Linked DNA regions of Homo sapiens: regions 2, 3 and 4 are each linked to region 1. Evidence: fine-mapped expression QTL. A gene starts in region 1. Each other region holds a variant in brackets. All regions are shown on one strand. Distances are between the middles of the regions.

Region 1 (5,147 bases):
GTTTCTCTGCTATTTCTTTTGCAAGTTTGCCTTTTCCAGTACATATATTGCCATCTACAGTTATCACTCTGCTGCGTTCTGTCAGTCTTTTGCTTGCTTTATCCCCAAGTAGGAAATGCCACATTCCATAGCGCAGTTTGCACTGCACACTGCTATGAATTCCTCTCTGAAAAACACAAAATCACACAGCAGCACATTGTGACCACTCTGGTTCCTGTAGGCATTAGTAACTATTAGGTAAAAATACCAAGAAACCTCTTAGTGATAAAAATGCCAACATCTACATCTTTATTGCCTATTAATTTGTTTAATTATCTGTCTATCCCCCACCACTCTGTCCATGTAAGTTTCGTTAAAGGCAGATATACTGTCTGTTTGTTCACTGCTAAATCCTCAGGCCCTGGAACAATGCCTGAAATTTTTATTAAATATGTTTACTATGTTCAATAAAAATTGGAGGGAGGGAGGGAGGGGTGGATGGATGGATGGATGGACGGACAGACGGGAGGAAGAAAGACAGGGATGGAGGGAAGCTCAGGAGTGAAGGGAAGGGAATAAAAAACATTTCTCTAATCCAAGCTTCTGTCCCCATGTCCTGACCTCGTTACCCCACTGCCTATTAAACAGCTCCACCTAGATGTCCTGAAGGCACCTGAAGGTAACAGAGCTAAGGTGAAATGCAACATCCATATCCTAGCCCCCAAGTCTGCTTTCCCTCACAGCAAGGAATATCCACTACCTAACAAGCAAAAGAGAGCAAATTTGAGTGTCGTCTTTGATACCTTTCTCCTTCCTTCAACTGCAGAATTACACACAAAATCCTAACTGTTCAGACTCTCTGGACACTGCATCGCCTCCCTATGCCATGTGCTGACTCTGTCGGCACCCTCACACCTCTCATCTACAAGGCAAAGACCTGCTTCAATGCCTGTCTCCAGCAGCCCAATTTACTCTCCACACTAAAGTGGGAACATTCCTTCCAAAAAAAGAAAAGAAACATAACCAAAAGTAAAACAAACTGAAGAAGTTCAACAGATATGATGGGGTAATAACCTTACTATATACAGAAATTGTACAGAACAATAAGAAAACAAAGAATAAAAACACACAGCTTATTTTAAAATTATAAAATATAGCCAAAAACCACATGAAAAAGTGGTCAACCTTGCTACAAAAAAACAAAAGACTATTAACAAGGAAACATTAGTTTTTCATGTGTCAAAATGAGAAATAATTTAAAAAATGATTACAGAGTTAGGACAAGACAATGAGTACCATCCTAAACTGCTAATGGTAATGAAACCTAGAGGACGCTGGGTCTACAGCATTAGGAATCCATTCAAAGAGTATATACATAAGATTGACCTATAAGGATGCTCAATGAAGTATGATGTAACACCAAAAATGCAAATAGAAACCCTTAAATGTCCAACAACGGAGGAATAGTTAAACAAAATTAAGGCATATCCATATTATGGAATACTAAGTACTCAGAAAAACACAAAAATATTAAAATACTTTATAGTGAAATTTAAATAAAACAGGAGAATATGAAATATCAAGATATTTTTCGATCTTGATTTGATAACTGAAGAGTAAGGAAGAAACAAGTTACAAAACAAGGCAAAGCAGACAACCCAATTTAAAAATGGGCAAAAGATGTAAACACCTCTCGCAAATGAAATTAACGCAGATAGCAAATAAGTATATGAAAAGATGAACACTGTATATCATGAGATATTCCAAAGTTGAAACAAGATACCACTACGCAGCTATCAGAATGGATAGCAATCCAAAGTAACCGACAGCCCCGCATGCTGGCGAGCACGCAGAGCAACAAGGAGAGCCTTCACTTCTGGTGGGAGTCAAATGGCACAGTCACTCTGGAAGATGGCTTGGCAGCTTCTTAGAAAACTAGTCTTACTACATGAGTAATCGCTCTTCCAGGTATTACCCAAATGATATAAAAATGTATTTCCAAAAAGAAATCTGCATGTACACGATTACAGCAGCTTTATTCATAATTGCCAAAAACTTGAAGCAACCAAGATGCCCTTCAATTGCTGAATGAATTGAAGTACATCCATGCAATGAGATATTACTCAGTGATTAAAAAGAAATGAGTTACCAAGCCACGAAGACATAAGTGAATCTTACATAGATATTTCCAAGTATTCAAGGCGTCTGAAAAGGCAATATATTGTATGATTCTAATTATATGACATTCCAGAAAAGGCAACTATGGAAATGTTAATGAGATCTGTGGTTGTCAGGGGTTGGAGAAAAAGAAGGGTTTAATAGGTAAAGCAGAGGGGAATTTTTTAAGGCAGTGAAGCTACTCTGTACGAACCTATAATGGTGGAGACATGCTATTACACACGTGTCAAAACCTATAGAACCTTATAGCACAAAGAAAAAATCCATAGAACCTTATAGCACAAAGAATGCGCTCAATGTATGCACATTTTAAAAAACGCATTAGGTAGAAGGATCCCAAGATGTAAGGCAGAATGTGACAAAGCAATCCAACTGTGTTACAAATGTATGAAACGATTTCACTGAAGAAGGTGGGGGCAAAATGCTAAGAAATGAGAGTAGTCAGTCAGAGTAAAGGCAAAAGGAAGCGGACACAAGCACTGAACTCCGTGTCTGCTCAACATGGCATCACCCAAGCACCCAGCAGGGCCCGACCTTTAAACGGCTCTTGACAGGGCTGCTACGTGAATTATCTAATGACAAGCGCGTGTGCCCCCGGCCTGCCACCTGCACACGGGCCTCCCGCATCAGGGCAGCCTCGGGGCCCTGATCACCTCCGCGCTCCAGCGTTTTGCTTAAAGCTGAGATAAAATGGCCTGGAGAAGCTCGTGGCCCCCTGAGGTCTGTCCACGACCAAAGACCAAACAATTCCGGAGGCAGGAGGGGTCCCCCAAACCCACCCGGAGAGCGACCTGGGAGCCGCCGCCAGAGGCCGGGGGAGATGTGGAACTGCTCCCCACCCCGCCACCCCGCCACCCTGCCACCCCGCCACCCTGCCACCCCGCCGCCCGCTCACCACGCGCTGGGCGCCCGCCGCCACGACCCGGGCGGACGCGGACGTCGCTGCCAGCTTCAGGAGCCGCAAGGCCATGGCTACCCGGTCAGCTCAGGATCAAGGACCCAAGGGGACGCGGTCGCGACGGGGCCCTCTCTCGCGGCCGGCGCGCTGCCGTGACGTCACGGCCGGGGTGCCCGCGGCGCCTGTCGGGAACCTTCCAGGGGGCGGGGCCGCGCCGAGGCCCTCGGGGGCTTCCGCGGAGACAGCCAGTGCGCTGCCAGGGTCCTGCGGGTTGGGGCGAGGGCCGAGAGGTGGGAGTTGGAGGTGAACGTGGGGGCAGCATGCTGGCTGCCCGGCCCCTGCCTGGGTTCTGAGTTGCTGCGGTGTCGCGGGAGCTGAGGCCGCCCAGGGCGTGGAGCGACTTCTGCGTCTCGTCCCAGGGTCCTGTGCTCCCCGCAGAATCCCCCAGGCGCGGTGTGGACGTCAAAGCGACCTCCTAGAGAACATTCCTAGCTCTCAGAACGTTCTCGCTGGGGAGGGAAAGTGGAAAAAGAGGGGGCGAGGAGCGGAGGGACGGGGTGGGACCCCTGTCGCGGGGCGCCTGTCAGGGAGAGGGACCTGGCAAGGCCGGCCTGGGTCGCCTCCGGAGCTGAAGGCTAAGTGGTCTCATCCAGGGGACCTGCTGTGAACACATTGAATAGCATAGAAAACAAAAGCACACGCTCCAAGTCCATCTCTTTTTTTTTTTTTTTTTTTTTTTTTTTTTTTTTTTTTTTTTGAGGCAGAGTCCCGCTCTGTCGCCCAGGCTGGAGTGCGGTGGCGCCATCGCGCTCACTGCAAGCTCCGCCTCCCTGGTTCACGCCATTCTCCTGCCTCAGCCTCCCGAGTAGCTGGGACTACAGGCGCCCGCCGCCACACCCGGCTAATTTTTTGTATTTTTAGTAGAGACGGGGTTTCACCATGTTAGCCAGGATGGTCTCGATCTCCTGACCTCGTGATCCACCCGCCTCGGCCTCCCAAAGTGCTAGGATTACAGGCGTGAGCCACCGCGCCGGCAAGTCCATCTCTTAAAATGTGCTCCCGTCAGGACCTGGGCTCTGGGCTCCACGAAGGAGCCTTGCATGTGAGGTTTCCTTCCAAGTATGCCTGCTGTTGGGAAGGGTTTTTATAATCTTTTGTGTTCCCCAGGCTTTTTGTTCTTAACCCCTTAAATATTCTTTAACTTTGTTTTCAACTTTTCAGAAATGATCATGCGATTGTAAAACAGTGGGAATGCAGCTGTGTAAACTACGGCCGGTTCTATGGATGTTTCTATAATTGAAGAATTGCTTTTTGTCAAAAATACGGATTCCCGGTCCCCAACGCAGGAGGGTCTGGTTTTTAGATCCTGGAGGGCACCTGAAATCCATTTAACAAGCTTTAGGGTTCATGTCTGCTGTTTTTTGCCTTGTTTCCTTTGCATTTTTTTTTTTTTTTTTTTTTTGTGCCTTCCAATGGATACAGTACATTTTTTTAGAATTCCATCTTGATTTACTGATAATGTCTTGGGAAATATCATTATGTATAGTTTTCGTAGTGGTTCCTCTAGGTATCACAGCACGCAGACGTAACTTCTCACAACCTGTTTGCGTGGATGTTTTGTTGTACCTGAGCGAGTTAGAAAAACACCACCTTTGAGACGAATTAAGAGTCCTTTATTAGCTGGCGACCGAGAGACGGCTAACGCTCAAAATTCTCTCAGCCCCGAGGAAGGGGCTTGATTAACTTTTATACCTTGGTTTAGGAAGGGGGGGGGGTCTAGTTAAAACAATTTTACAGAAGTAAAGTAGTCAAAAAGTTAAAAGGGTAAATGGTTACAGGAAAGTAAACAGTTCAAGGTGCAGGGGCTTTAAGACTATTACAAGATGATAGACCCGGGGCTTTGGGCGTTATCAATCGGACAAATTCCTGGGAACTGCGGATGTAGCTTGCCACAGTATCTTACCAGTTAATTGCATTCTTGGATGTGGTGGGAGTCAGCCTGCACAAGTTAAGTCCTTGAGAAAGGGGCTGCCAGTGAAAGAGCCAAGATGGAGTCTGTCTGGCTCTCTTAGCTAAGGGAGAGTCAATTCAG
Region 2 (5,147 bases), 45 kb before region 1:
GCTGGACCCCTCCCAGACTCAGGTCTTGGTGCCTTTGACTCCATCCAGCCACAGGAAGAGCTGGGAAACCTTCCCCCGCCAAGCAGATCTCCCTAAACTCAGACTGGAAGCCAGGTTCAGGGATAAGGAAACACAGACAAGAGAGACAGCAAGTCTAGAATGGGCAACTGGACCTTCTTCCTAACAGTAACGAAGGCCACTGGACCCCAACTGCCGTCTTCTCGTGTTGTTCAAAGTCACCCATCCATTGGCAGGTGCAGGTGGGCGAGCACAGGCACCTGGGATCCGGAGCCCCATGAGCTGCCACTGCTCCTGCCAGCGTCCCGCCACTGTCCCTGAGTATGGCGTGCTAGGCCCTCTAACTCGCCCCTGACACTGCTCCTGTTTCTGGAGTCCCCATTTAAGGGTGCAGTTGATGGGAAAGAGCAGGCTTCCCAGACACCTAGAAGAGGCAGCCAGGCCCTTCACGCAGGTGAGAGGATTCACAGGGACCTGAACCACTGTGTGGAGATCTGACTCCACGAGTGCTCCACAGCTGGACGACCGTGCCCCTTAAAGGCCAGTCAAGACATCTCCAAAACCAATCTGTTCCAGAGAGACTCATTAGCCATCACATCCAGGATGTTCAACCATGTATATTTATAATGTTAAGCACACAAACTGCTGCTTTCACGCTAGGAGAACGTAAATATGACACATCAAATGGCTGTAATCTACTGTCTGGAACTGGCCCTGTGATGTGAAGAGCACCAGTGGATTTTAATCAAGGAATGAGATGCTTCAATGACAATGGCCAACGTGGTCACTGGGCCTGGTCAACCACCCAGCATGGGTCAGCTGGCTTTCTCAGCTACGCTCGCAGCACCCTGGATGTAGGTTCTGTGCCTCCACTCCACACATGGCCAATCCAACAGAGTGTCTCCCCATGGGAGGAAAGAGCCCTCACCCACCCCTCCAGCCTCCCCTCAGCAGACTAGGTTGGGGTCCTATGAAACAAACAGTGATCTGGCCTGGCCACGCCTGCTTGGTGAACTGGGATCTCTGATGAGCTGAGAGGCCTCCCTGCCTCTGGGATCCCTGCTTGGTGAACTGGGATCTCTGAGGAGCCAAGAGGCCCCCCTGCCTCTGGGATCCCTGCTCCATCAACGGTCCCATTCCTCTCTTGCATCTTTTCCCTCTTTCCACAAGCACTTACCCTTTTGCCTATAAACACACTGAGAATGCCTTAGCCCTTAAAAACAAGACAAAATAACAAGCTATAGAAGATGGAATCTCTAATTCCCACCAGTCTCCTGACACTTCTCTCAAGGTTCACCTATGACCTGGTCATCAACGCAGTATCCTGGGCATGGTCAACCTTCACCACCCCTGACCTTCCTGCGGCCTCTGACAGACACTGAAGCTCCTCTACAGGCTCCTCTGCTGGCGCCCAGGGCCCACACAGTCTGGCCTGCCTCCTAATACTCTGGCGAGCTTGGTCCTCTTCACCAGCTCTTCTTCCTTTCAGCAGAAAGCTCTTCTGACCAACCCCGATTGGATCACTCACAAGCCAGCCTACACAGGACACCAAGTGGCAGGACCTGCTCCCACTGGCCCACAGGCACTTCTGTCCCTCCCACCAAGTGGTATGAGTCAGTGGTCTGTTTCCCAGCAGCGACGCCAGTTGTACTTGTCATTGCAATTGCAAAATTTAATTAAATGTTATGAAAACTACGCGTCTGAAAAGGAAGAGCTGCTGTTCTGTTAAAACTAGGCTGAAACACTTTGGAACCATTTGATGAAGGTGAGTCGCTAAAATAAGGTCTATTGAAATAGGTGTGGGCGAACCACCTGTAGGTGATTTGGGGAAGAATTCTGTCTTCCCACCGTTTGTATGCTTTTTAGAAACCTAAAAAAGGAGTTTCTGCTTATAAAAGAACTTGAGCTCTAATAAAAAAGTATCTTAAAAGACATGGAGCTCTTTTCATGTGAAAGTTAGAATAACGGCTTTGTTTCAATATATAAGCTCCAAACAGATTTCAGAAATTAGCTCAGACACAGGGTGGGCGAGCCTCCCCAGCGTCACACCACTCCCTGAGAAGTGTGCTCCTGTGTAACCCTTTCTGGGCTCATCCATCCATCAGTAAATTAAATTAAACATAAGGGTCAGGAAAAGATCCATGAGGAAGTATGCCTGGGATTCCTAAATTAAAGCCTTTACACCAAAGTTCCTTTGTTACAAACGGCAAATTCCTATCTTAGAACCCCACCCCACAGCCCACCCCACCCAGCTGCCACTACCTGTCTCTATTGTGCTTTATAGTTAGACCCCAGTGCTGGCTGAACTGGCTCCACCCCTCTCCTCCAGTCACACACACAACTCTGCAGGAGAGGCAACACAGCAGAGGCCCAGGGCTCCACCGTCCGGTGAGGAAAGGCCACCACCAGGCCCTCAGCAGCCCGCTCCCCACCCTGCACCTCTTCCCTGACTCCCTCTGCTGGAATCCTTCAGCAATAGTCTGCTTAATTTTGAAAACCTAAAAAGCAAGAAGCAACTTGGCTGGGCAAGGAGGGGCAACAATGCCCCTGTTAAGTGGGGGCTCTCGGGAA[AAG/A]AGACAGTGCCTACTCTCAGCGCCCCCGCCCATAGCACCAGCACTCTCACCTGCACCACCAGGACCCTCCCTGACCGCCTTGGCCCTCTGCCTTTGCCCCCACAGTTGATACTCGACGTGGCAAGCAGAGCAACCCTTTAAACCTGAGACCCAGATGATGCCACTCTCTGGCGCACCAACGCCACCACCTCACCAGGAGTACCGCTGAACTGAGGTCCCCGTGGCAGCTGCGGACCCCGGCTGACCTTGGCCTGCTGCCTTTTCAGCTCACTCCCTGCTCAAGCTCACCCCACCCGCATCACACCTCACCATGACGGGCTCTTCTCTAGCTCCAGACCATGTCCACCTGTTCCTGCCTTCCGGGGGGTGCCTGCTCCCCTACACCCCCACATCCCTCACTCCCCTGTGGCGCCTGCTCCCCTACACCCCCACATCCCTCAGTCCCCTGCGTCAGGTGCCTGAGACCTCTCTCCACATGGCAGCCTCCTCGCTGTGCTTTCTCCAAGACCCTGGCACCCTGTTACCTGTCTATCATCTGTTCTCCCTGCCCACTAGGAGGTGAGCTGCATGAGGGCAGGGCTTGGCTTCACTCTCGGGTGTGGCCCCAATGCTTACAACAGTGCCTGGCACGATAAAGATCTAATCAGGGCTAAGTGCAGAAGTGGTAGGACACTGGGATGACACTGTCGGGCAGGGGGTCTGAAATGTCAGGCTTGGCAGCAGGTATTGGGATAAACTGTCATTCCTACTACCTTAGCACTCCCAAGATGCCTGACTCTATCTCTGGGATAGAACTCAGATTAAATTAAAAGGCAAGAATTCTTTGATCAGCCAGGTTTCCCTTCTGTGCCTTCGGGGTTGGGGATTTAATCAATTCTGCATTCTGGGGGACTGTTCATTGGGTAAATACCTATTGAGTATATAAAATGTAGACTTTCTAATTCAGACAGGTCCTCCACAGAATGGCTACAGAAAGAACCAGCACCAAAACAGGGTTTCCAGTTATAAAGAAAAATAGGGGAGCCTTCCATTTCTAGCAAAACAGCAGCCCTAATATGCAGAAAAGCTTCTTGATATAAAAACCTCTGGAAATGCTTCTACATGTACAGCTGAGCTCCGCAAGAAATCACAAAGGGCTAAGAAGGAAGAGTGAGTGGAAAAGCCAGAGTGGTGAGCTGAAGCCGCGGTGCCCTCGGGACGCCCAAGAGCTGCAGAGAGCCACAAGACACGGCCTGGTGTCCCTGTGAGGTGACTCCTGAAGGGCCACACCTCAGTGCGGGGAGAAGGCCTCCTGCCAGCAAGGAGACCCCAGCTGGCACCCAGTGGTGAAACCATTCTCCACTGGGAATTCGTAACCAGAGCTTCTCTCCACACAGGTTCGAGGGTTGAAATTTGCATTACCTCCAGGGCCTGGAATACCACAAGCAACAAAGGTGCCATCAATCCCTCCCTGCTCCTCAGGAATCTGAGGCCTGGCAGCAGCAAAGGGTCCTTTCAGGAGTAGGGCTGCCAGGACTGAGAAATCATATAGGATACCCGGTTAAAAACCTTGGGACATACTTATACTAAAATACTAGCTGCTCTCAGTTCAAGCTTACCTTGGCATCCTGTACTTCATCTGGCAACCTGACTCAGGAGGGACCCACTCTCACCAAATGCCCATGGATGGAGCCCCACAGGGCAGAAGCTCTGTACCCAAAGTCTCCAACACAGTCAAGAAAAGAAGCCACCATGGGTGAGAAAAAGAAGAAACAACGAACAAGATCAGACAGCGTCCAGAGCAGCGCTCCAGAGACAGAGCATAAAATAACTAGGTTTAAAATGTCTACAGAGAGAAGCAATGGGGGAATTACCAACAAGGAATAAGATCCTACCAACAAGATGCAAATAGCACTGGCATAAAGAAAAATTCAAATCTAGACCCATCTCACAAAACTACAAAAACACTAAAGTCAGAAAAATCAGGAAAATCCTGGAAGAAAAACGAAGACTATAATCCTTAATCTAAAGAATAAAGGTCAAAGCATTACTCGTTTTCCAAGAATCAGAAGTGCTACCTAATAACTCCTAACCTCCAGGTATCAACAAGGACAATACCCATCATAAAACATGCATGCAACGTCCTGGGCATGTTACAATACACAGACCACCTATTTACAGAAGCACAGTGCAAGTATATTTTAAGTTTCTCATGAAATTATAAGGCATAGTTTTAGTAATTTTATTATTTTTAGAAAATTAATTGGGATTATAGAAATTCTCATGTTAATGGCAGAATTTGGCTAAAACACATATTTTCAACATTAAAAAAAAAAAAGTCTCCCAGAAAGCGAGAAATTGCCTAGCAGGGTAATGGGCTTCTAAGAACCACTGCCATGAAAAGGCATCCATGGCCTCCACTTGCTCCAGGAAATAACCGGCTGCCAACTACCTTCTGCTCTAATAGTCACACGTTCTGTGGAATGTCCTCAAATGCTGTTTGCTCCCCTGCAGCAAACCAGTGACCTGACACGTGTACCTGAAGACCGATGAGAAGGTCTTCCCACCTCCAAAGAC
Region 3 (5,147 bases), 860 kb after region 1:
CCCTCTGGAATGAATGGTCTTAGAAGGCATCCAAAGAACTTTCCAGTCAATCCTCTCCAGTTCGAATTGGCATGATGTCATCAATACAGTGAACCAGCGTAATATTCTATAGACCATCCAGGTGATGAAGGCCCATTAGGCCTACATTGTGACAGAGAAGAGAGGGTTAACATCAGTCTGGGCCAGACAGTGAACTTATAATGTTATCTCTTCCAAGTGAATGCAAACCGTGTCTGAGCCTCCCCTCTGATGGGGATTGGAAAGAATGCCTTTCTCCCAGGCCAGTGACCACATACAAGTTCCAGAGGCCCTGCTGTCCTGTTGTACTAAGGATACCACGTCTAGCACAGCACCTGGACTACGGGTTACAGCTTGGTTAAGTTTATGTAACCCACTACCATTCACCATAATCCATCTGGCTTCTACTGGGGCCATATTGGTGAATTAAAGTCTCTGAAAGTAGAACTAAATTCCGTTAGTACACCCAGGATGTGGTATGTTTTGCTGGGTTATCTTGGCCATGGGAATAGGGATGATTTTGCAATAAACTTCCCCTTGGCCCTTCCTGCTATTCCAGCTCTTACTCCTGCAATGTACAGCCACCCTGCTTCACAATCAAATGCCAAGGGGATGGCCACAGGGTGGGCCTGGCCCTTCGGTTCCATTATGAATCAGATGTGAACCAAGATTCTGCTTCTACCAGCCCCCATTCTAATGGGGGAGGAGTGATGGCATTTTGTGTCCCCTTTTGTGTGTGTCAGCTCAGGCCCTGGATCTTGCAGCCTTCAAGGGGCCTGGGCATCTCCTGTCGTGAGTCTGTGCTTCCTCTGGCAGATGGCCAGAGGTCCCTTTCAAGGAGGCTCCAGGGAGCTGCTGCTGCATGAATTGCAGGTCCCCTCCAAGAGCCAAAGGTGTGAGCTGTGGCTCAGGCACTGAGGGGTCAATGCCCCTGAGAGGCCAAAGATGGAGAATAGGAAATGTCCAATGGGCAGGACCCATGCAGGTCATGGGCTGCAGGCAGGCAGTGCTGGGCTGATGAGAGAATGTGAGTTGTGGGCACAAAGAATGGTAAGGACAGAGTGGGGGTGGCATCAGATGCCAGGAGAGGACACCTTACATCAGAGAGGGGGGATGTTTAGTAGGTTCTTGTACTGCTGTAGACAACTACCTGAGACTGGGTAATGAATAAAGAGGTTTAATTGACTCACAGTCCCGCAGGCTATACAGGAAGCATGGCTGGGAGGCCTCAGGAAACTGACAATCATGGTGGAAGGTGAAGGAGAAGGAGGCATATCTTACATGGCCGGAGAAAGAGGAAGAGAGCAAAAGGAGAGGGGGAGGGGCCACACACTCAAAAAACCAGATCTCATGAGAACTCACTCACTATCATGAGAACAGTAAGGGAGAAATCCACCCCCATGATCCAATCACCTCCCACTGGGCCCCTCCTCCAACACTGGGGATTACAAGTCTACCTGAGACTTGGGTGGGGACACAGATCCAATTCTACCTGAGATTTGGGTGGGGATACAGATACAATCCATATCAGGGGCCACTTCCACGGGGACGGGAAGAAGCAGATGGGAGTAGTCCTGGGCAGGTGGGCTCATGGCTGTGTGTGCACCCTCAGTTGGCTTTAGTTTGCTCTAAGAACGAGGTAGGAGGTGGGGATGCCTGGGGAAGGGGGTCATTCACAGAGAATGGAGAAGACTCAAAATTATCCATCAGCACATGAGCCTTTTCTACTTCTAGGGGAAATATTTTCCACACTGATATACAAAAAGTGGACAGTACCCTTTCTGCTGTGTATACCCAGCACATTCATTTTTTCAAAACCAAATATACAGCATTTCGTCACCAAGGAATGGCATACAGTGCAGGCAGGGCCAAGTCCTCAGCTCCAGGTCTCCTGCCGATGCTGTTTGCTTGACAACACCACGTGGCTGGGTCAACATGCACCACATGGAGAGCTTGGCACCTGCATCCAGGCCCTGACCCAGGGAGGAGGTGCTCCAAGAGGCCTGCCCTGCCCCACCAGGCACTGAAAGACTCTCAGAGGCCACTGCTGGGGACAAAATCCCTCCACTACCCCCTCAAGGAGAAGCCCGTTTCTTCTTCCAAACATCCCAGGAGCCTCCCATGGTGCAGTGCAGAGTCTGTTGGGGAGCCAAGAACAGGTGGCTGAGACCAGGTGGCCCAGCTCAGCTCTCCTCGCCTCCCAGAGTCCTGGTCTTCTGGAAGATGCTCTGCATGGCAGAGATCCGGTCCTTATCCTGGATGTTGAAGACCTGGAACTACAGGCAGGGTTGCAGGGGAGAAGGGTTACAGGGACCCCTGGAGCCCATGATAAGCTCTCAGGGCCGAGAGCACAGCGTGGAACAACTGGCCCTCCCTGGGCCATGCCGGGCCTTCCTGCCCCGGGTATCTGCCTGGACAGGCATCCTAGAGGCGGAGCGGCCCCAGCCTCTGCTGCTCCCTGAGCCCCTCCTCACACACGGCGTCCCTGGCATGGGCCTACACTGAGGAGGAGGCCCCACACGGTGCTGCTTGAAGGCTGCCTCCGGTGACCACCCCACCCTCACCGCACCCTGCCCACACAGGTCTGCTGAGAGCACAGAGCATGGCCTTTGCCCCCTAATCTGCAGGCTCTGGGGTAAAAATTCTTAAGTGTTGGGCATGAGGGGAGGCCCCAGGAGGCCATCAGCATCTCAACAGGCGGAAGTTTGCTAAATTAGGATAGGAGATGCCCAGCAGAGGGTGGCTACCCTGGGGCCTCACTGCCACTAGGAC[A/T]CAGGAGAGGGTGGCTGAGAAACCCCTGTTTGTGCCCTGGAAGGAGATTGTGTTTGCTCCTGGGATGAGGGTGAGGGCCGGGCCCTGGGCGAGGAGCAGGGTGGACTCCAGGCAGGCTCAGCAGAGGTGGCAGAGCCTGGGCCACAGGGAGGGGCAGTTGGTGGAGCCTCCAGGCACCCACGAGAAGTGGCCCAGGGGACACAGGGTCCCAAGGAGCACGGCTGTGGATTCTTGAGTCCAGGGAGAAAAAAATGGTCCCTCTGGGGCCCAGGTAAGGCCATATCCCTTCATGAGGAATGGAACTCCAGGGTGGGCAGCTGGGGCTCTGAGCATTTACCAAGTGTGAGCTGGGGGGCAATTCTGGTGGGAAACAGAAGCAGGGTCAGACCCACTGCCCTGGTTCCAGGGAGAAGCCCCAGGCCCTGTGAGGCCACCAGTGAGGGGACCCCCACGGCCCGTGTGACCCCCAGACATCACATGTCCCCGCAGACGCTCTCCATCCGAGCCCTGACCTGGCCTCAGCATTCCTGGGGCTGCTGACCTGGGAGAGAATGGGCAGGGAGCCAGGCCAGGGCTCCATTCCACCCTCCCATGCCCCCGGGCCTGCCCAAGGCCCCCGCAGCCAGCACCCACCTTGTCCAGCAGGACGTCGAAGTAGGCAGTGGCCCAGTAAGTGGGGTCACTGGCTGGCAGCTGCAGGAGCGCCTTGAGCCCGGAGCCGATGCGCGGCGGGGGGCTGCGGCCCAGGTGGGTGGCGTGGATGCGCAGGGCCGCCTCGGGCTGGCTGGCGAAGCCCTCCACGCGCTGGTAGATGGCACCAAGGTCCAGGCCGCTGCCCTGCAGCAGGTTGCGCTGCGGGTGGAGGAAGTGGGGCAGCTTCCGCGTGGCCAGGCAACAGAGCAGCACCACCAGCAGGCGGTACACGGCGCCCTGCAGTTCTGCCCAGTCCTCGGGCGCCAGGAAGAGCACAGAGGCCCACAGCAGCACCATCTGCAGGACAGCAGGGTCAGCCCTGGCCTCCTGGCCCACCCGGCCCACCCTGTGCTCCCACCCTGCGCTCCCACCCTCACCCTGGCTGCCCCTCCCTGCTCCTACCCACACCTCTTCCTACCCTGTGCCCTCCCCTCCACGTCCCAGTCGGAGTCCCAGGCCCCTCCCACCCGCTGCCCCCAGCCTGCTGGCTCCCGAAGGCATGAACCCCTCTCTCTCCTCCCCTGCCTGGCTCTGGCCCTCGCACCCCACCCCAGCTCCTCCTTTCACCCCCCAGGACCTCCCTTGGGGGCCTCTGCAGCTCCCAGCATCCTCTGGGCCTTTCTCTCCTTCCCTCCGCCCCTTTGAGCTCCTACTCACCCCCTGCAGCCCAACCCAACGGGCCCATGGCATTGTCACAGTCCTAGCCTGTGTGCTCATGACCCCTGGCCTGAACCACAAGACCTGAGCTGCCTGCGGCCGTTCCAGACACCCTTACCCTCCATCCTGCCCCAGGCCCTGTCTCACAGGCCCTGTCTCACAGCGGCTTTTCAAACCCTCTTCTCCCATGGCCTCTCACCCTGCAGTTGAGTTTGGGGCTTGGGAACCACCATGCATCCAACCTCAAGGGGGGCTGGAAGCTCCAGGTCAGGTGGGGGCCTGAGAGGGCATGGCCAGAGGTCACCTAGGGACTCCGGACACCAGGAGGGGCACCTCTCCCTCAACACTGAGCCAGGTGGAGGGGCCAGCCCCATCTGTGGAGCAGCGCCCGGCTGGCCACACACTCCAGGAAGGGGCCAGCCGAGCAGACCCCAAGACAGCACAGCCCCCACCTGCTTCCTCGGGGTTGGGGTGGGTTGGAATCCCTGGCCCCTGCCTGTTCCTTGTTCTTCTCAGCATCTGATGTTACAAAGCCCCAGAAGGACAGGGTTCTGCAGAATGTCACTGTGGCCCAGGAAGCAGAGAGAAGGGTGTGCCTGGACTCTCCTGGGAACCCCCAGAGGGAGGTGTCCCAGCCAGGTGACATTCCCAGACACTGGGAGGAGGCTGGCTGGGCGGGAACACTGGGCTCTGTGAGGCCCCACCCTGAGATTCTACCCAACAGTGTCCCAGGGCCAGGAGGGCCTCCGAGGTCACGGCCTAGGGATGGCGAAGGCCAGCCTGCGGCACCACGGCACCCGCGGCCACATTCCCTTGACCCTCAGGAGCCACGGCCTCACCTCCTCAGAACCTGGGCAGGCCCTCAGAATCCCCCCAACTCCGACTTGGGACTCATAGCAGCTGCCTGCCAGTCAGGGCTGGCAGGAGGGACACGCCTGGGTGCACCTACCCCTGGGCCCTGGTGACAGACAACCCGCCGAGTCCCGCCCTGGGTACCTTCAGGTGGC
Region 4 (5,147 bases), 75 kb before region 1:
TGGTGGGTGCTGTGCCTCCCATGGGACTCCTCAGTCCTGAAGCCCGGTGCTCAGCAGGTAGTGTGGGTGGGATCCTGGGTAAGGAGCTGGGATCCAGGCTGCAGTGCAGCCCCTTCCTCATGGGTACAGAATCCCTGGAGGCCTAGGCCAGGCCATCTGGGGCCGTCCCGCCTGCTCACACTGCTTAGACCAAGGCCCTGGACATTATCTGGCAGCAGGCATCCGAGCCTGGGAATACCAAGAAGTCATACCAGGACAGCCCTATACCAATGCAGGTGCCTAAGGCCTACATCCCACACCAACTCCCAGAGCCCCCAGGGACAGAGCTCCTGAGGCCCACAGAGGAAAATGGCTCAGTGACTGTCCTGTGTGCCTGCCTTCTGCACGCCCCGCTGGGCTTCCTGCAGCCACAGCCAAATGCTCGGCCTAAGGAAGAAGCTGGACAAAGACCGGGAGGCAGCTGCTACCAGATACAGACAGGGACAGTCCCTGCCTCACCAGGGCCCAGTAAGCCCCGCCCTCTCTGCGCACCAGACACAGACAGGGACGGCTCCTGACTCTCTGAGGCCCAGAGCAAGCCCCGCCCTCCCCGCCGAGCCCCAGGCCTCCAGGCCCAGGGTCCTGTGAGGGTCCTCCCGGGGCTCCTCTCACACACCGGCCTTCCTGCTGCCGTGAGCTCCTCCATCCACTGAAGGCCTCAAAGACTATGCAACAGGCCAGCCCAGCTCTTGTTGCCAGATGGCAAGAGGGATGAGGGCTCCAGGAAGCACGGGGTGGTGCCTCAACACGCCCACGGCAGCGACATAACCTGTGGCCCCCAGTGCAAGATGAAAACGGGAGGCTCTGGTCCAAAACTTGTTCAGACTTTCAGGACGGCCACAGCTGAACATTAAATCAAGTGTGGGCCCTTCTTGAGCGTGGGCACTGGGTGAACATGGAGGTCACATGTGCATAGGTGGCCCTGCCCTTCAAGCTGGTCTTCCGAGGCCAAGTTAGCCAATTTACATCCTCTGGTGGTGAGGTGGAGGAGGTGAGGTCGGGGGACAAGCTCTGTCGTCACTACAGCTGTTTGAGCAAAAGTCCAGAGGTTCAGTTAACGGCAGCAAGGTTCAGGATTGTGTACAATTCTTAGGGAAATAGCAGCTCATTTCCACCAACACTTAAGAGCTAGAACCTCCTGGGCCCTGCCCACACGTCCGTCCCTCTTCCCAGCCTCAGCCACGCATTCCAGAGACGAAGCCAGGCTGTGCTCCGGACAATGGCCTCCAGGCTGCTCTTCTCCCTTTGGCCCCTCAAGGCCCTGTTCAGAGGCTCCCTGTGGTCTCATTCAAGGCTGCTCTGCAGCTGGGTCCTGAGCCCCCAGGGGACAGAAAGTAACCGACATCTCCACAGCCTCCGCTCCATGAGTGGCGACGGAAAAGTAACAGGCGTTCAAAACATGCACTCACTTGACGTTGTTCAGGGTCTACAGCCCACTGTCCATTTTGCAGCTGTAAGTGGAGTCGCTGGAAAACCCAATGTAAAAAGCAGCAGGCCTGCCCGAGCAAAGCTGCCAAGGCTAAAAGCCCCAGCCATCTTGAAAGCACAAATACACGTCGGTGGGACCCGGATCCTGACTCGAGCCTCCAGCGTTCCAAATACAAGGACAAACTAGGGATTGCAAAGGTGGCTCAGATGCCAGCCTGACGACGCAACTCAGTATGTCCCTTCATCTTCCACAAATCCAGGCCTCCAGTGTCTGGGACAGAAAAAACTAGAGCCAGCCGAGGTGGCCCTCCCTCCTTGGGGACTTCACCAAGCCTCGAGCCATCCTGGCCTAGGCAGGAGCCAGCAGAGGCCTGTGTATTTATTTTGCAGGGAACAGTTCACACAAAGATAAAGCGTGCAGGAGTCCAGAAGAGAAGGCTCTCTACTTCAAATGCAGTGTCTCAGAAGTCACAGGGCACCCCCTTCTGCCCCTGGAGCCCCCAACCCTTCCTTGCTCCCCTGGAGCCCCCAACCCCAAGCTTCCTGCCTTGCAGGCTTTCTCATTGCTTTAACCCCACGAATGCAATGGACACATGTCCCTCTTTGGGACGGACGTATGAGAGCTCATTATGACCAGGATAGTGTCGGGATTTTAAGGTAAAATCAAAGCAAACCAACTGCTGATTGAGCGACTTCTTCCAACACTGATACGGATAGGAGCTTGGGGCAGGAATGAGCACCAGCATTTGTGTCTGAGGAGTGAGATGCACGGCTCGGAGGGCGAAGCGAGTTAGCAATTGTACAGATCAGCTTTAGACATCCAACCCGACTGGACTACAGCTGCCCAGGTATTTGGTCAAACAAGATTTTTGGGGTGTATCTGTGGGGGATGAGATCAGCATGTGACCTGGTGGATTCGGGAAGGCAGGCGGCACTCCCCAGCGTGGGCAGGCATCCTCCAGTCCACTGGGGGTCTGGAAAGAACAGAAAGGTGGTGGAAGAAAGAATTCCCACTCTCTGCCTGTTTTTTGTTTTTTGCTTTTGTTTGTTTGTTTTTTAGAGACAAGGTCTTCTCTGTTGCTCAGGCTGGAGTGCAAACTCCTGGGCTCAAGCAATCCTCCCACCTCAGCCTCCCACATAGCTGGGACAACAGGCGCGTGCCACCACACTTTTACTTTTTGAAGAGACAAGGCCTCATCTATGTTGCCCGGGCTGGTCTCCAACTCAGCCTCAAGCGATCCTCCCACCTCAGCCTCCCAAAGCACTCGGATTACAGGCGCGAGCCACCATACCTGACACTGGCCTGTTGAGGTGGGACATTGGTCTTCCCTTGGACTGGAACTTGCACCACTGGCTCTCCTGGGTCTCCAGCTTGCAGACAGCAGATCTTGGGGCTTCTGAGCCTCCAGAATCCTTGTAACTGTCTCCATATCTGTTCATCCTGTGGGTCCTGGTCTCAGGAGAGCCCTGACTGAGCCTGAA[C/T]CTGGACTCACCACATTCCATCTGGGAGACTGGGGAGGTCCCACCCTAGAGCCTATTTTCTTACGTACATAATGGGAGAAAAATCAGGCCGTCCCCACCTGCAGCCAAGCTTGCTGTGAGAATCTAGGGAGGGGGCACACCTCAGAGTGGGCTCACGAAGTGGTGGCAGAGATTTAGAAAGGTTTCCAGTCCTTATAGCCCCTCCGCCCCATGCTGTGTGGCTTTGGTCCACCCTCAGCAGTACAGGCTGGCCCTGTTATAAAGAAGCTGAGATGATGCATCTCCTACAGCCAGACGGCTGCCCACCACTCACAGCTTCCTCAGGGATCCCTCAGGCCCCCGAGTCCTTGAGCGGGCAAGAGGTCTCCTGTGGGCATGCCTTGGCCCAAGCAGGAGGCTCAGGGCTCCCGACCCACCACCTTCTTTTTCAGACGGCTCCAGTCCACCAAGCTGCCCCCTCGGGGCATGACCTTTGGAAATCTGAGGAACGGTTCCTCCTTGCTCCCCGAAGACTCTGTTTTTAGGCATCTGAAGTGTAGATGTAAACATTGACCTTTCCCACTTGTGTTTAGACCTGGTGTCCTCGGTGTAAGGACCCCACACACGGATGAGAGCTCATTATGACCAGGATAGCGTCAGGATTTTAAGGTAAAATCAAAGCAAACCAACTGCTGATTGAGCGGCTTCTTCCAACACTGGTACGGATAGGAGCTTGGGGCGGTGTAAGGGCCTGTGCATGTCACATGGCCACCACGTGCAGGTGAGTGGCAGCCGCACGCCTGTCTGTCCCCGTGGTCGGCTGTGCAGACCCCTGCTCGTGCCTGCAGCTTCATCCCAGTGTCACAGAAACACCACACAGCTCCATTCTGTGATTCAAGTAGGTGCCTGTCTAGTTGTGTGACACTGTCCAACAATTACGGGGCAATTGTTCCCACTGCTCCCATGACTGCTTCAAAGAGGTTTCAAGTCAGCGTCCCACTGGCCACCTGCTGGCCAGGGCTTCCAGTACGTTCCGCTTCAGCCCCTCGTTCCTTTGTCAGGTAGTTGCTGAGCCTGGAAGGAGTGCAGAAGGGCCCTGCTTCAGAGGATTATTGGCTTTTGAAGTGAAAAACCCTAAAACAATGCTGACACTTCCCGTTTCAGTCTCATCTCTGAGTCTGGATTTTCACTGGGGCTCTGGGGCCCTTTCCAGCAAACATCTGACCACAAGACATCAGAAGGAGAGGCTACTATTGAGACAGGGAACCCTGCAGCGATGGGACCCGGGGTGCCCACAGGGCGTGCGGGAGGGGCCTCGGGAGGGCCACACGCTCCTGTGCTGCTGCCCTGGAGACAGGGACAATGGCTGCGTCAGCCACCCGTGGGTTACAGAGGACAGCAGGGGGAGAGACGCAGACATTGATGACTGAGTCGTCGAAGGTGGTTGAGATTGGGAAGAAAGTGGGGCCAGGGTCTAACGAGGCCGTTTCTCTTGTGTTCTCAGGCCTCACTTCTGAGCCTCCATAAAAGAAAAAATGCCCGTGCTGGGCAGCCGTGTCCCAGGGATGCCTGGTCAGGGTCCTCCTCTCGCCACACCCTCCCTGGGTCCCCTCAGCACCCAGTACAGGATGTGCCGGACACTGAGAAGCAGCTATGATGGAGGGGCGGCAGGCTTGGTCACAGCCGGGCGTGGAGAGTCAGGCATCTTTAAAAAACAGGGTCTAGGAAGACTCTAATGGCAAGTAAAAGAAAATGTATATAACTCTAAAGCTATCTTCCTTGTTCATTCCTAAAATTCCTAAATTTTCAGAAGTGATCATAAAGTATTTGTGTAACTAAAAAGGGGAAACAAGCCAGAGGGGTTCCCAGGCCTGGTCCCAACGGCACACCGAGGCCTCCGGCCTGGCCATGCCCTGGGCAGCGGGAAGGACAGTGGGACCCAGGAACACGAGGGCCCTGCTGACGCCTGCCCAGGCTCCTGCCTGGCTCTGTCCCTCTCGAGACCTGAGATGGTGCATGCCCTTTGGTCTCTTTCCCTCGGTAGGTGCTGTGGCATGGGTCCTGGGGTGTGGGCCGGCAGGGGCCAAAGGCTGCTGCCTGAAGTCCCACACCCACTAGAGGTCTGCACAGGAGCCGCCTGTGAGCCCACGGGATGAACCAGCAACACATGTGCCACACCTGCTCGCAGAGGGCAGACAGCCTGGCTGCGTCCTGGAATG

What was found.
Region 2: its variant is fine-mapped to the expression of NDUFA10 in whole blood (TOPMed, PIP above 0.99).
Region 3: its variant is fine-mapped to the expression of NDUFA10 in adrenal gland (GTEx, PIP 0.92).
Region 4: its variant is fine-mapped to the expression of NDUFA10 in whole blood (TOPMed, PIP above 0.99). The same link has a PIP of 0.9 or more in lung.

Annotation. Positions count from the first base shown.
Region 1 is chr2:240,022,175-240,027,321 of GRCh38, forward strand. It overlaps NDUFA10 (NADH:ubiquinone oxidoreductase subunit A10), which reads right to left and starts at 3,168. Exons shown (of 10, transcript NM_004544.4): 1 at 3,053-3,168; 2 at 1-166. The coding sequence starts at 3,127. RefSeq lists a silencer at 3,095-3,354 and an enhancer at 3,163-3,992.
Region 2 is chr2:239,977,006-239,982,152 of GRCh38, forward strand. The region is part of intron 9 of NDUFA10 (NADH:ubiquinone oxidoreductase subunit A10); the gene reads right to left. Among named protein-coding and RNA genes, the nearest start is that of MIR4786, 36 kb to the left of the region's middle. The variant AAG/A (reference allele first, on the strand shown) is at 2,590.
Region 3 is chr2:240,884,869-240,890,015 of GRCh38, forward strand. MAB21L4 (mab-21 like 4) reads right to left here. Exons shown (of 5, transcript NM_001085437.3): 3 at 5,137-5,147; 4 at 3,424-3,780; 5 at 1,180-2,294. The coding sequence ends at 2,202. Among named protein-coding and RNA genes, the nearest start is that of MAB21L4, 8.7 kb to the right of the region's middle. The variant A/T (reference allele first, on the strand shown) is at 2,791.
Region 4 is chr2:239,947,017-239,952,163 of GRCh38, forward strand. It overlaps a transcript of NDUFA10 not described here. Among named protein-coding and RNA genes, the nearest start is that of MIR4786, 6.5 kb to the left of the region's middle. RefSeq lists an enhancer at 4,140-4,639. The variant C/T (reference allele first, on the strand shown) is at 2,950.